Homo sapiens: one gene and its partner. The protein of the gene in region 1 purifies or fractionates together with the protein of each later gene. This does not show direct contact. Each region holds a gene or a part of one and is shown on either strand. Other genes may lie near its edges.

The links.
Region 2: the proteins of DDR2 (region 1) and FLG purify together in Homo sapiens (affinity purification with mass spectrometry; one large-scale study listed by BioGRID and IntAct). This does not show direct contact.

The regions. Positions count from the first base shown.
Region 1 is NC_000001.11:162,757,962-162,761,624, reverse strand, and holds part of DDR2 (discoidin domain-containing receptor 2 precursor), read right to left. Parts: intron 1,830-3,663; coding exon 1,646-1,829; intron 415-1,645; coding exon 171-414; intron 1-170. UniProt on the Homo sapiens protein: Tyrosine kinase involved in the regulation of tissues remodeling. It functions as a cell surface receptor for fibrillar collagen and regulates cell differentiation, remodeling of the extracellular matrix, cell migration and cell proliferation.
Region 2 is NC_000001.11:152,311,636-152,315,298, forward strand, and holds part of FLG (filaggrin), read right to left. Parts: intron 3,323-3,663; exon of another isoform or gene 3,113-3,322; coding exon 1-3,112.

The DNA of each region.
Region 1 (3,663 bases):
CCCCTCCACAGTTAAAACTAGTCACACAAAGGATTCACCGTATCCGTCAATGAGAAGCTGCCTGTACAATCCCACTCCTCTCAGAGACCTGCTAATGAGAAGTTCTGGGCATGTGCATTCCTCCTTCATCACCTTGCTCCCACTTCCCAAAGAGGACCTGAGCTCCCTACCTGATTGGAAGGTGATCTCACTGAACATCATCCAGGTATCTGCAAAATGGTATTGACACTTGATGGCACTGGCCATTCGGTGGTGGAGAGGCACCGTGACAAACCGAGCACTGGGGTTGACGTCATCCAGGACAAGGGGGAAGGAAATGGCATTAGGTTCCCACTCACTGGCTTCAGAGCGGAAGTAGCACTGTACCTCCTTAAAGATCTTCACACCTTTAGCAAACATGTTGTTGCAGTGGACCTGGTAGAGAAAGAGGCATGTGAGTGATAGGTTGGCCCTGCTAAGGTGCATGGAGACACAGTGCCAGCCAACTCAGTAGTTGCCGTCTACCCTGATTCGAGCTATTCTGAACTGAGGTAAGAGGAAGACTGCCATCCTGCTTCCTCCTAGGTACATTTCAGAGCCAGTCTTCTTCTTTTCACAGGGCTAGGTGAGAAACCCAAAATAGTGTACAATCTAAAACAATTTCATTTTTTTTTTTAGAAATCTCATTTCTAAATGAGAATACACATATTCTCACATATGTGTGTATGTATCTATGTGTATAGATACACACACGAATCAGGGTAGACGGCAACTGCGGCTGAGAGGATTATAGACTCGAGAGAGTTCAAGGCAAGGAAGGGCTGAGAAGATGCTGGTGCAGTCCTCATTTAACAGATGAGAAAACTGCAGTCCAGCAACATGAAGTGAGGTGGCCAAGGGCAGACAGTGCATACAGGTAACCAGGGTTGCAGCCCAGGTTTTATAAGGCCTGACCAACTATCACTGCCACTGTGAGGTTCCTAGAAGGAAAAATTCAGAAGACTGCAGAACACCAACTACATATATATATCTAGTTGTATATGTATATACATATATCTAGTTGTATATGTATATACATATATCTAGTTGTATATGTATATACATATATCTAGTTGTATATGTATATACATATATATAGTTGTATATGTATATACATATATAGTTGTATATGTATATATATAGTTGTATATGTATATATGGTTATATATATGTAGTTGTGTATATATATATATCATTGTGTATATATATATAGTTGTGTGTGTATACACACACACACACACACACACAACTGTGCTGGTAAAAAGATAATCTTTGACCCTAAAAATTTATTTTTTTCACCTGATATTAAAAGAAATTAGAGCATTTTTATGCGTCTTAAAAATCTGTGGGCCCTGGACACTGTGTTATTGGCTTAATGGATATGTCACCTTTAGTGTCAAAACAACAAAAAAAAGAGAGCTCACTGACCTATTCTAACTCCCTTACACACAAATGGAGAATCACGCCCTTAGAGATGAAGTGACTTGTGAAATGCATTTAGCTAGTTAGTAACAGAATATGTCATTGAACTGGCATCAGCCTAGACTTTTTTCTAGCATGCCTTTTCTCTACCACACTATGATTTGTGCCTCCTTAAAGAAGTTCCACCACACCCGACCCCACTGACCTTCATGGTAGTGAAATTCCTGATGCGGTCAAATTCAAACATGATCTCAATGTAGCCATTGGTGGCACTCTCGTTCCGCCAGCCCACATAGTCATAGCCGGGCCACACGTGGTATTCATGGGTCTGGGTGAAATCGTCCAGGCCAGACACACCATCGGTCAATTGGCCTAGCCCTTCTGTCATGCTGCTCAGGCCAGGAGAAGAGGAGGAAAAGGAGAGAGAAATCTGAGTTAACCACACATTCGTGGAAGAGCTTTTACCCGGCATCTTCACTCCAGATTTTGTATGAGCTTATTATCTTGGAATTGAAGGATTGTAAATAATCAGATTTGCATTATAGTATTGACTCGTTTATCTTGCATCAATGGAGAACTAAGAATTTCATATTAGTAATTTTTATAAAATATTTGATGCTTACTCCTTTAGTAGTAAAACTTTTAAACAATGTCTTATTTAATATGAAAAGCTTTCTATAATTTATTGCACCTTGCCTATTCTTATATACTGAATATGTCTTCACATAATGACTTAATATTATCAAATGCATTTGATGAACTAATTCATAGAGTAAATGAGGAAATGGATAAATGCATAGAATGAATGCTACCATACATAGTAGCACTTGCCCCACTATCATATAAATGTTTCCAGAGCTTGGTGCTGACTCTCCTTTAACTACATATTGTCATTGTTCAGTGAATCAATTTCAGAGAATCCAGTCACACTCTCTTCTATTCCACATATCCAACAACCCAGTTTGATATTAAACTAAGGGGGAAAATACAAGCTCTAAATTTAAATAATAATTTCTATTTAATTCTAATTAAATTTGTAGGATACTAGACCCAGGAAGTAAGATGCAAGGATTTCATGAGAATCCCAGGTATTGGATTTAGTTTTGTGTTCTAGCTTAGCAGGCTTTTTTGACTTCTGAGTAAGAGGCTCTGTTTTAAAGGCTGAGTTTTCCAGAAGCCTGACTGCTGGATGGAATATAACTGCATGTATGCTTATTTGACTACTTAGAGAACACGAAGAGGCTCCTTCCTTCTTTTTATGGAGGGACAGAGCAAAAACCATCATGTGGAACTTCTCTTTCCTCAAGCTCTGCATCTCAAGCTCTGGCAGATATGACACAAATTTCCCAAATGACGAGATTGGGATACTCACCCTCAAGCAATAATTGGTGTGACCCTTGAGGTTTAGAGCTAGATCAATAATATGTAAAATTTGTGAATCGCAAAAAATAAAAAAATACTAAGGGTGATTATGCCAGCCTTTTAAAATATATTTAATCATTGAAAATGTTTGGTAAATTATAAAATTTGACTGGCCTTATCCACAGTGACCAGAGCCTGGATCTCCCTTCCAAGGTTTTGCCATCTTTTTCTTCTCTCTACAGATCAGAAAGCTAGGAGAACGTAAGTTTACTTGCAATAAATATATTTCCCATTATCCTCAGAAAAATAAATCCCAGGAAAGTTTTATGAAAAGCAACAGAAATTAAAAGGAATGCCTGTTCAGTTCCCCCTTGGTCAAAATTAAATCAAGTGAAGAAGGGATAAGAAAATAAATGTTCAATATTTATATACTTTAGAGTTATTAAAATCACCAGTAAGCATATATTATTCTTGAAATTGTTTTAAATTTAAAAAGTAACTTTTGCTAATATGACTATTTCCTGAGACTCTGATGTCATCTCTCAGTGGCTGAGAGGATCTCTTCACTCAGCCACCTCCACCAGATATTTCATTACTTCAATTATTAAATGAAAGCCAATGATGTCTACATTTTTGTAATTTTTTTTATCTTTCCCCTGGAGTTAAGAGCCATAATTCCGGCTACCTTCCTTATTTCTCTACTGAATGTCTTCTCAGTCTCACAGACCTACACTCCAAACTAAATCCATCATCATCCCCTACTGAACTAAGTCTTTCTCCTTGGTTTCCCTTTTCCATAAATTATACTTCTCTTCATAGTAATGGAAAATGCTTGGCGCAAGGTAAGCACTCAAAATATAT
Region 2 (3,663 bases), about 10 Mb from region 1:
GTGTGTCTGACTCCTCTGAATGTCCCTCACTATCACTGGCCTGACTACCACTGGACCCCCAGTGTCCACTGTCTCTGACTGCAGATGAAGCTTGTCTGCGCGGAATGCCTGAGTGTCTGGAGCTGTCTGCTGACTGCTGGTGGCGGGATCCGTGTCTTTCTCCTGGACTTGATCTTGCCTGTTCATGGGATGACGCAGCCTGTCCACCAGAGGAAGTCTCTGCGTGAGGAGTTCCTGATTGTCTGGAGCTGTCTGCAGAGTGCCCGTGACCGGCTCTGTCTTCGTGATGGGACCTGGGGTGTCTGGAGCCATGTCTTGACTGCTCCTGAGCAGATCCACGATGGTTTCTGGAAGCAGACCCAGACCACCTCTCAGAGTCTTCTGAATGTCCCTCACTGTCACTGTCCTGGCTAACACTGGATCCCTGGCGCCTGCTTGTCCTGGACCCCTCTGATTGTCCCTGGCCTGCCTGTGAGTGTCTAGAGATGTCGGCATGAGAGGAAGCTTCATGGTGACGTGACCCTGAGTGCCTGGAGCCGTCTCTTGATTGTTCCTCATTACGTGTTGTTCTGCTTGCACTTCTGGATCCTGACTGCCCACGGGAGGCATCAGACCTTCCCTGGGATGTGGTGTGGCTGTGATGGGACCCTGAGTGTCCAGACCTATCTACCGATTGCTCGTGGTGGGACCCCTGCCTTCCTCTTCTGCTTGACCCCGGGTGTCCACGAATGGTGTCCTGACCATCTTGGGATGCTGAGTGCCTGGAGTTGTCTCGTGCCTGCTCATGGTGGGATCCTTGTCTTACTCCAGTGCTGGGCCCTGTCCATCCATGGGAGGACTCAGACTGTTTATGAGTGCTCACCTGGTAGAGGAAAGACCCTGAACGTCGAGACCTTTCCCCTGACCGGTCACGTGCGGACTCTTGGTGGCTCTGCTGATGGTGACCAGCCTGTCCATGGCCTGACACTGACTGTGTGTCTGAGTCTTCTGAATGTCCCTCACTGTCAGTGGCCTGACTACCACTGGACCCTCGGTGTCCACTGTCTCTGACTGCAGATGAAGCTTGTCCGTGCCCAGTGCCTGAGTGTCTGGAGCTGTCTGCTGACTGGAGCTGGTGGCGGGATCCATGTCTTTCTCCTGCACTTGATCTTGCCTGTTCATGGGATGACGCAGCCTGTCCACTAGAGGAATTCTGTGTGTGACGAGTGCCTGATTTTCTGGAGCTGTCTGCAGAGTGCCCATGACCAGCTCTGTCTTCGTGATGGGACCTGGGGTGTCTGGAGCCATCTCTTGACTGCTCCTGAGCAGATCCATGATGGTTTCTGGAAGCAGACCCAGACCACCTCTCAGAGTCTTCTGAGTGTCCCTGACTGTCACTGTCCTGGCTAACACTGGATCCCTGGTTCCTACTTGTCCTGGGCCCCGATGATTGTCCCTGGCCCACCTGTGAGTGTCTAGAGCTGTCAGCCTGAGAGGAAGCTTCATGATGACGTGACCCTGAGTGCCTGGTGCCGTCTCCTGATTGTTCCTCATTTCGTGTTTGTCTGCTTGCACTTCTGGATCCTGACTGCCCATGGGAGGCATCAGACCTTCCCTGGGATGTGGTGTGGCTGTGATGGGAACCTGAGTGTCCAGACCTATTTACCGATTGCTCGTGGTGGGATCCCTGCCTTCCTCCTCTGCTTGACCCCGGGTGTCCACGAATGGTGTCCTGACCCTCTTGGGACGCTGAATGCCTGGAGCTGTCTCGTGCCTGCTCGTGGTGCGATCCTTGTCTTCCTCCAGTGCTGGTCCCGGTCCGTCCATGGGCAGAGTCAGGCTGTTCATGAGTGCTCACCTGGTAGAGGGAAGACCCTGAACGTCCAGACCGTTCCCCTGACCGGCCACGTGTGGACTCTTGGTGGCTCTGCTGTCTCAGCCCAGCCTTTCCGTGGCCTGACACTGATTGTGTGTCTGAGTTTTCTGAATGTCCCTCACTGTCACTGGCCTGACTACCGCTAGACCCCCGGTGTCCACGATCGCTGACTGCAGATGAAGCTTGCCCGCGCCCAGTGGCTGAGTGTCTGGAGCTGTCTGCTGACTGCTGGTGGCCGGATCCATGTCTTTCTCCTGGACTTGATCTTGCCTGTTCATGGGATGATGCAGTCTGTCCACGAGAGGAAGTCTCTGCGTGACGAGTGCCTGATTGTCTGGAGCTGTCTGCAGAGTGCCCATGACTGGCTCTGTCTTCATCATGGGACCTGGGGTGTCTGGAGCCATCTCTTGACTGCTCCCACGCAGATCCATGATGGTTTCTGGAAGCCGACCCAGAGTGCCTCTCAGAGTCTTCTGAGTGTCCCTCACTGTCCCTGTCCTGGCTAACTCTGGATCCCCTACGCTTTCTTGTCCTGGACTCCTGCAATGGTACCTGGCTTGTATTTTCATGTCTTGACCTGTTCACTTGAGATGATGATTTGCCATCAGATGACCTTGATCTTTCATATATTTTGTTTTCTTCTAATAGACTATCAGTGGTGTCATAGGCTTCATCCTGGATTGTGTAATATGTGGCAATATGGCCTGATTGTATCCATTTTTGAGTCATTCTTCCTGTATTTTCATAATCATATACTCCTTCTTCATTGTCTTCTTTCTCTTCAAGTCTTTCACTTAGCCTCTTCCTATTGTCTCCTAATCTAGTATTTTCAGTCTTGTTTTTCTCTTTTTTACTTGAGTTATGATGGTTTTTTCCATATTCTTCTTCTCTATGAGTAGGTGAATATCCTTTTCTTTCTTTTTTTTCAGAACTAGATTCATGCCTTTTCCCCCCTGTTTCTCTTGGGCTCTTGGATCTTCCCTTATTCCCTTTTCTATTGTTTCTTCTTTCCAGACTTGAGGGTCTTTTTCTGTTTTCTTTGTTTTCTTCCTGTTTATTATCTTCATGTTTATCATGATGACTGTGCTTTCTGTGCTTGTGTCCTGATATCGGTAAATTCTCTTTTCTGGTAGACTCATAATATGCTTGAGCCAACTTGAATACCATCAGAAGAAACTCAGTGAAGTCAATTTTCTTGTTGTGGTCTATATCCAAGTGATCCATGAAGACATCAACCATATCTGGGTCATCTGGATTCTGTACAGAGGGAAGTCACAGAGGGAGACTGCATCAGACAGAATCACATTATCAGCCAATTAATTCAAAGTTAATTTAAGGAACCTGATCTTTGAGTATTAAAAAGTGGGACAAAATCTTTTTTTTTTTTAAGACTTTTTTGTCTCATCCTCATTCAGGTGTTATATGTGAACAAAGATGTAGACTAGTAAGGTATCAAGATTTGATGGGGTAAGTGACTCTTTTTCTTATTTTAAAAGTCAGAAGTGTATATAATTCATTACTTAGTTGTCTTTAACAAAAATCCCCTTAGTAATGTTGATGTTTGGGAGAATATTATAAATACCAAAATACTAAGAACTAATTTACATTAATTTTTAAATATTTATATTTTTTTCTCTGAGGGTGTCTTTATGTTTATAATATACATCCAGGTATAGGGGAAGAAAATAAAATCTATCTCTTTTGAGACAAGATTAACTCTTTTCCTATTTTAAGAGAAATAGTTCACAAAGAGCTCAAAATAACCCTTGCTTAGATTATTGATGAGAAAAACAAATGCTCTATCTTTG